2 linked regions of the Homo sapiens genome follow. The protein of the gene in region 2 interacts with the protein of the main gene of each other region in a pairwise test. Each region holds a gene or a part of one and is shown on either strand. Other genes may lie near its edges.

Region 1 (3,655 bases), on a different chromosome or scaffold from region 2:
GCTATGCAAAATTTAAAATTTAGTATAGTCAAATTTATTCATCATTTTTCCTTAATAATTTCTGCTTGTCGAATCTTGCTTAAGAAATGATTCTACACCTCAAGGCTATGATAGATGTTAATTACAGTGTGGGGTATATAGAAGCTTTTTGTATTATCTTTGTAATTTTTCTGTAAATCTAAAACTGTTTTAAAATTTAAAAGAAGTTTATTTTTTAAAAAGTGTATTGTCCTATGAATATAAAATGTAAGTGAATATATGAAAAAGAAAAATCAACACATAACAAAGGACAGATTGTGATAATGACAAATACTACTGAATCTGCTTTGCCTCTGGCTTTTTAACCATTACACCAACTATCTGTGTTTCCTAAAGGTTTGAGAACAACTTTTGTCTTCGAGCAGACAAGGGATGACAGATCTCATGCCAAATATTCAGGGCACTATAGTCCTTAATACTCATTCTTGCTGGAAAAAAGAAGAACGTATACATGTAAATTATGAAAAAGATACATCAGGAAGTAAAGAATTGTAAGATGTTGGAATTTTAAAAATAATTTTATTTGTAGACTATGGTGGTTCTCAACTTGGGCTGTACATTGTAATCACCTGTTTTAAAAACATTAATGCCCAGGACATTTTCAGAGATTTTAATTCAATCACTGTGCTGTGGGCCTAGGCATCAGCATTTTAAAGGTTCCCCAAGTTGTTCTAACTGTGTAGCTATCATTATAAACCACTTATATTCAAGGAAGATAACCTCTCATTAATACCAGGTGTCTTCAGTTTGAGCTACTTTCATCTGGTAGTGGTGAAGATTGTTTCTCAACCATTCACCCTCTCCTGAGCTCTATGTGCCCTCAAGTACATCTGTAAAAAAGCTAACCTTCAGCCTGTGCCCAAAGAACAGAATTTATTTCTATGCAAAGCTAAGAACTAATAGGAATTGGCCCTGCAGTTGTTGTTCTATATAATAAACAATGGCTGAACAAGCGGGACAAGTTATTTAACCTTTTTTTGTTCATATTTTTAAAAATATCTTGAAAAAACACATTATAGGGCAAAGTCTATGTTTTCATGATGTTTCAGTTAGAGAGGAAACTCATATAAGTGAAATCTAACTGCAAAAAGCTGAGGAAAAAAATGACGCGGCCACTCTTGCAAAGTTTGCTGTTTCCTCAAAAAGCTAAATACAATTACCATATGACCCAGCAGTTCCACTGCTAAATGTAAACCTCAAAATTTGGAATCAAGGACTCTAACAGATACTTGTACACCATTTGTTCATAACAGCATTATATACAATAGCCAAAAGACAGAAACGACCCAAGTGTCCCTCAACAGATGAATGGATAAACATGTCTATACACACAATGGAATACTATGCAGCCATAAAAAGGAATGGAATCCTGATAGATGCTACAACATGGATGAACCTTGAAAACACTGTGCTAGTGAAATAAACCAGACACAAAAGGGCAAAAGTTCTATAATTCCAGTTGTATGAAATACCTAGAATATGCAAATTCATGAGGCAGAAATTAGATTGGGACTGGGGAAAGGGAAGAAATGGGGAGCAACTATTTAATGGGTACAGAGTTTCTGGTTGGGGTGATGACAAAAGTTTTACAAAGAGATAGTAGTGGCCGGGCATAGTGGCTCATGCCTGTAATCCCAGCACTTTGGGAGGCCGAGGCGAGTGGATCACCTGAGGTCAGGAGTTCAAGACCAGCCTGCTCAACATGGGGGAAAATACAAAAAAATACAAAAAAAATGTCTCTAGTAAAAATACAAAAAAAATTTAGCTGGGCATGGTGGTATGCACCTGTAGTCCCAGCTACTTGGGAGGCTGAGGCAGGAGAATCACTTGAACCCAGGAGGCGGAGGTTGCAGTGAGCTGAGATTGCACCACTGCACTCCAGACTGGGCAACAGAGCAAGATTCCATCTCAAAAACGAAACAAAACAAAACAAAACAAAAAACCCCCAAAGAGATAATAGTGGTGGTTGCACAATATTTTGAATGTAATTAATGACAATGAATTGTATACTTAAAAATGGATAAAATGGCAAATTTTATATTTATTTTATCAAAATAAAAAATTAAGAATAGCAAAAAGAAAGAAAAGAGGAAAAGAGAAAGAAAGAGAGAGAAAGGTTATGTATTGCACAGCCAAACTGAATAATGGAAATTTCCTATTAGTATATGCTACAAAACTAACTCAGGGCAGATGACTGCACTGGAAACATATACAAACTTTTATAATGACTTCATCCTAGGGAAGCAAACTGCCAACTAGAATCTGTCACATTATTAGGGCTCAGCTAGATATGACAAGCTGCCTTTTCCATTTTGCACGCCATACTTACTGGATGCTTAAGGGTACAGAGTTCATACAGGATGCAACCCAAGGACCAGATGTCACTGAAAGCATAAAGAAGCAATGTAATCACAAGCAGGTTACGTATTTTCTAGTACAAAAAATAATTTCTTACCTTTAATAAGAATAGATATCACAAGTAATTCCTAGGTATTAAAACATATAATGTTGGTCTAACACCTAGATACTTCCTAAGAGTAGTGTTCACAATAAAACTCTCTGCTTTTCAATCCCCACCCCCTTCAAATTGGGGCAGTTGAGATATCACTTCAGTAGCATTTGGGAATTCAGTAGCAAGAGGGAATATTTGCGGACTCAGATGATCACAGCTGGAAGAAGGACTCTGGAAGGCATCCAGTGTAGTTTCTATTCCGACCACCCTGGACACAGCACCCAGCCTTTGATCACATCTCCTGCTGGCAGCTCTCTACTTCCCACACAGTCTGCTGGATGGCTCTAAGGGATAGGGTTCTTCCTTTTCTTTGAGATGGAGTCTTGCTCTGTTGCCCAGGCTGTAGTGCAGCCTCACAATCTCGGCTCACTGCAAGCTCTGCCTCCCGGATTCACACCATTCTCCTGCCTCAGCCTCCAGAGTAGCTGGGACTACAGGCGCCCGCCACCACGCCCAGCTAATTTTTTTTTTTGTATTTGTTTTAGTAGAGACAGGGTTTCACCGTGTTAGCCAGGATGGTCTCAATCTCCTGACCTCGTGATCCGCGCGCCTCAGCCTCCCAAAGTGCTGGGATTACAGGTGTGAGCCACCGCGCCCAGCCCACCTTTTCTTTTTTTTAAGGGATGGGGTCTCACTGTGTTGCCTAGGCTGGAGTGCAGTGGCTATTCACAGGCATGATGTCACTGTACTGCTGCCTTGAACTCCTGGGCTCAAGCAATCCTCCTGCCTCAGCCTCCCAGGTAGTTGGGACTACAAGCACACACCACCAGGCCCAGCTCCTCCAGACTTTTCTAAATGATATTCTTTTTTATTTTAATTAATGGTTTTTACCAACTATTTCCCCGTTTAGTTTTTTTAAATTTCAAATCTACAGAAAAGTTGCAATGTCCACATGCCCTTATCTAGGTCCCCCAATCATTCTCATTGGCCATGTTTGCGTGCTAATCTCCCTCCTCTATATCTATCTGAATCTCCTGAAAAAAGGTTGCCCGCCGGGCATGGTGGTTCACACCTGTAATCCCAGCACTTTGGGAGGCCGAGCCGGGCAGATCACAAGGTCAGGAGTTTGAGACCAGCCTGGCCAATATGGTGAAACCCCATCTC
Region 2 (3,655 bases):
GAGCCTGGGAGGCGGAGTTTGCAGTGAGCTGAGATCATGCCACTGCACTCCAGCCTGAGCGACAGAGCAAGACTCTGTCTCCAAAAAAAAAAAAAAATTAGCCAGATGTGGTGGCATGCCTGTAGTCACAGCTACTCAGGAGCCTGAGGCAGGCAGCTCACTTGAGTCCGGGAGGTAAAGGCTGCAGTGAGCTGTGATCATGCCACTGTACTCCAGCCTGCCCAGCCAGGGTGACAGAGTGAGAACCATTTCCACAAAAAAAAAAAAAAATCTGTGTATACACACAAATGTTTGCATATAAATTCATACAAAGAAGAGTGGAAGGATACACATGAAACTGTTATGGTTATGCTATGTTATGGTGGCTCATGCCTGTAATTCCAGCACTTTGGGAGGCCGACGTGGGAGGATCACTTGAGAACAGGAGTTCAAGAGCAGCCTGGTCAACATGGTGAAACCCCATTTCTACTAAAAATACAAAAATGGGCCGGGCATGGTGCTGTGTGCCTGTAATCCCAGTTACAGGGGAGGCTGAGGCAAAAGAATCGCTTGAATCCAGGAGGTGGAGGTTGCAGTGAGCCAAGACTGTGCCACTGCACTCCAGCCTGGGCGACAGAGCGAGACTCTGTAGAGTCAAGGTTTCGCCACATTGGCCAGGCTGATCTCAAACTCCTGACCTCAGGTAATCTGCCCCTTCTGCCTCTCGAAGTGCTGGGATTACAGGTATGTGCCACCACGCCCAGCCTATTCATGCATTTTTTTTTTTTTTTTTTTTTTTTTGAGATGGAGTCTCGCTCTGTCACCCAGGCTGGAGTGCAGTGGCGACATCTTGGCTCACTGCAAGCTCCGCCTCCCAGGTTCACGCCATCCTCCTGCCTCAGCCTCCCAAGTAGCTGGGACTACAGGCACCCGCCACCATGCCCGGCTAATTTTTTTGTATTTTTAGTAGAGATGGGGTTTCACCGTGTTAGCCAGGATGGTCTCAATCTCCTGACCTTGTGATCTGCCTGCCTTGGCCTCCCAAAGTGCTGGGATTCCAGGAGTAAGCCACCACGCCCAGCCTCATGCATTGTTTATGAAAACTTTTAGCTGGGTATGGTAGCTCATGCCTGTGATCCCAGCACTTTGGGAAGCCTGAGGTTGGGAGTTTGAGACCAGCCTGACCAACATGGAGAAACCCCGTCGCTACTAAAAATATAAAAAATTAGCCGGGCGTGGTGGCACATTCCTGTAATCCCAGCTACTCAGGAGGGTGAGGCAGGAGAATTGCTTGAACCCAGGAGGTGGAGGTTGCAGTGAGCCGAGATCGCGCCACTGCACTCCAGCCTGGGCAACAAGAGTGAAGTCCATCTCAAAAAAAAGAAAGAAAGAAAGAAAAAAGAAAACTTTTAAAAAGCTGTGCCTGATCCTAGAGGTTTTATGTATGCTAAAGTACAAGCTTTCGCTTTTTGCCTTAAGTAATGGGAAACTCCTAAAGAAGATTAAGCACAGGCATGACAGAATCAAATTCCTTTTTTTGGGGAGGGGTGGTCAGGGTCTTGCTCTGATGTCCAGGCTGGTGGGCAAAGGTGCAATCATGGCTCACGGTAGCCTAGACCTCCCGGGCTCAAGCAATCCTCCTACTTCAGTCTCCTGAGTAGCTGGGACCACAGGCACATGCCACCATACCTGGCTAATGTTTACAATTTTTTTTGTAGAGATGAGGTCTCTCTCTGTTTCCCAGGTTGGTCTCAAACTCCTGGCCTCAAGTGATCCTCCCACCTCGGCCTCCCAAAGCACTGGGATTACAGGTGTGAGCCACTGTACCTGGCTGTATTTTCTATTCTACAGGCCATAGCCAGATGCTCAATTCTTCCCTCATACTTCACCCTCTTTTTTGGCTAAGAATTCACTGTACAAGGGAGCAGGACAGCATGTTTGTGCCCAGTCAATGAAATGTGTATTCTGAAACAGACCCAGTCATGCCGGTTCTCTAGTATTTTTTTTTTTTTTTGAGATGGTGTCTTGCTCTGTCTCCAGGCTGGAGTGCAGTGCAGCAATCTCAGCTCACTGCAACCTCCGCCTCCCGGGTTCAAGCGATTCTACTGCCTCAGCCTCCCGAGTAGCTAGGACTACAGGCACAGTGAATTTTCGTATTTTTTAGTAGAGACAGGGTTTTACCATGTTGGCTAGGATGGTCTCGATCTCTTGACCTTGTGATCTGCCCGTCTCAGCCTCCCAAAATGCTGGGATTGCAGGTGTGAGCCACTGCACCCGGCTGGTTCTCTAGTCTTAAGCCACTTTTGGTTACTGCTCCTACCTGTTCCATTCATGTAGTCCTTGGCCAGCTCAAACAACCTGAGGTGCATGTTGGTGATGGGATTGAATGAACCACAAGCAAGGAGAACCACTTCAGTCTTCTCGGAATTTTCCATGGTAAGAACTTGAAGTTGTTGATCTAAATGGAAAACTGTGACACCTCCCTTGTTGTCTACAAAGGAAAAAGAAAATAAATTCAGTTATGCATTTTTTTTTCCCTAAGATAAGGTCTTGCTCTGCCACCCTGGCTAGAGTGTAGTGATGCAACCACAGCTGACTGCACCCTCAAACTTCTGGGCTCAAGTGATGCTCCCACCTCAGCCTCTCAAGTAGCTGGGAACACAGGCACATACCAATAGGCTGGCTAATTATTTTAAAGACTAATTTTTGTAGAGATGGGGGTCTTGCTATGTTGCCCAGGCTGCTCTCAGACTACTGGTCTCAAGCAACCCTTCCACCTCAGTCTCTCAAAGTGCTGGGATTACAAGCATGAGTCACCACGCCCAGCCCAGTTATAGGTCTTTTGATGTCCTTCCACATTCTCATTCCCAATAGATGGATTAAAAGTATTTGGCTTTGGCTGGGCGTGGTGGCTCACACATGTAATCCCAGCACTTTGGGAGGCTGGGGCGGGTGGATCATGAGGTCAAGAGATCAAGACCATCCTGGCCAACATGGTAAAACCTCGTCTTTACAAAAAATACAAAAATTAGCTGGGTGTGGTGACAGGCACCTGTAATCCCAGCTACTTGGGAGGCTGAGGCAGGAGAATCACTTGAACCCAGGAGGCGGAGGTTGCAGTGAGCCGAGACTGTGCCACTGCACTCCAGCCTGGCGACAGAGAGAGACTCCATCTCAAAAAGAAAAAAAAAATTGGCTTCAATCATTATGCTAACTCTAAAAATGTTTCCACATCTCCATCCCTCCTTTTCAATGTGAATCTGCAACTTCTACCATGAAGAGATGGAAGTGACTTCTCCACATTTTTTGACTTGCTTTGGGCAAAAGAATGTGGCACAAGTGTTAGTGTGGAGGATGCCAGAACATGTGGGAGAGCACCGATGCTCCCACTGATAGACAACCACCCCACATGTGGGGAACATAGCCATCCCCGACCAGCCAACTACAGTCCATCTGCTCAGACACATAAGCAAACCCAAGTGAGATCAACCAAACCTGGCTCAGATCGTCAAGCCAACAAGCTGACCCTAGTCTCAAAAACAAAAAATTAGTGTTCATTATCATATGTCACTCAAGTTTTGTGATTGCACTATTGTGGCCACAGTTAATTAATACAACAATATTATCATCTACCAAATACAGCATTTTTGCCTTTTAGTCAACATGATAGTAACAT

The links. Proteins that work in one complex are often made in the same cells at the same time.
Region 1: the proteins of NMNAT1 (region 2) and NEK3 interact in a two-hybrid assay, tested with the Homo sapiens proteins (one large-scale study listed by BioGRID and IntAct).

Annotation. Positions count from the first base shown.
Region 1 is NC_000013.11:52,146,047-52,149,701, forward strand, and holds part of NEK3 (serine/threonine-protein kinase Nek3), read right to left. Parts: intron 2,424-3,655; coding exon 2,369-2,423; intron 1-2,368.
Region 2 is NC_000001.11:9,970,833-9,974,487, reverse strand, and holds part of NMNAT1 (nicotinamide/nicotinic acid mononucleotide adenylyltransferase 1), read right to left. Parts: intron 2,471-3,655; 5' UTR 2,415-2,470; coding exon 2,300-2,414; intron 1-2,299.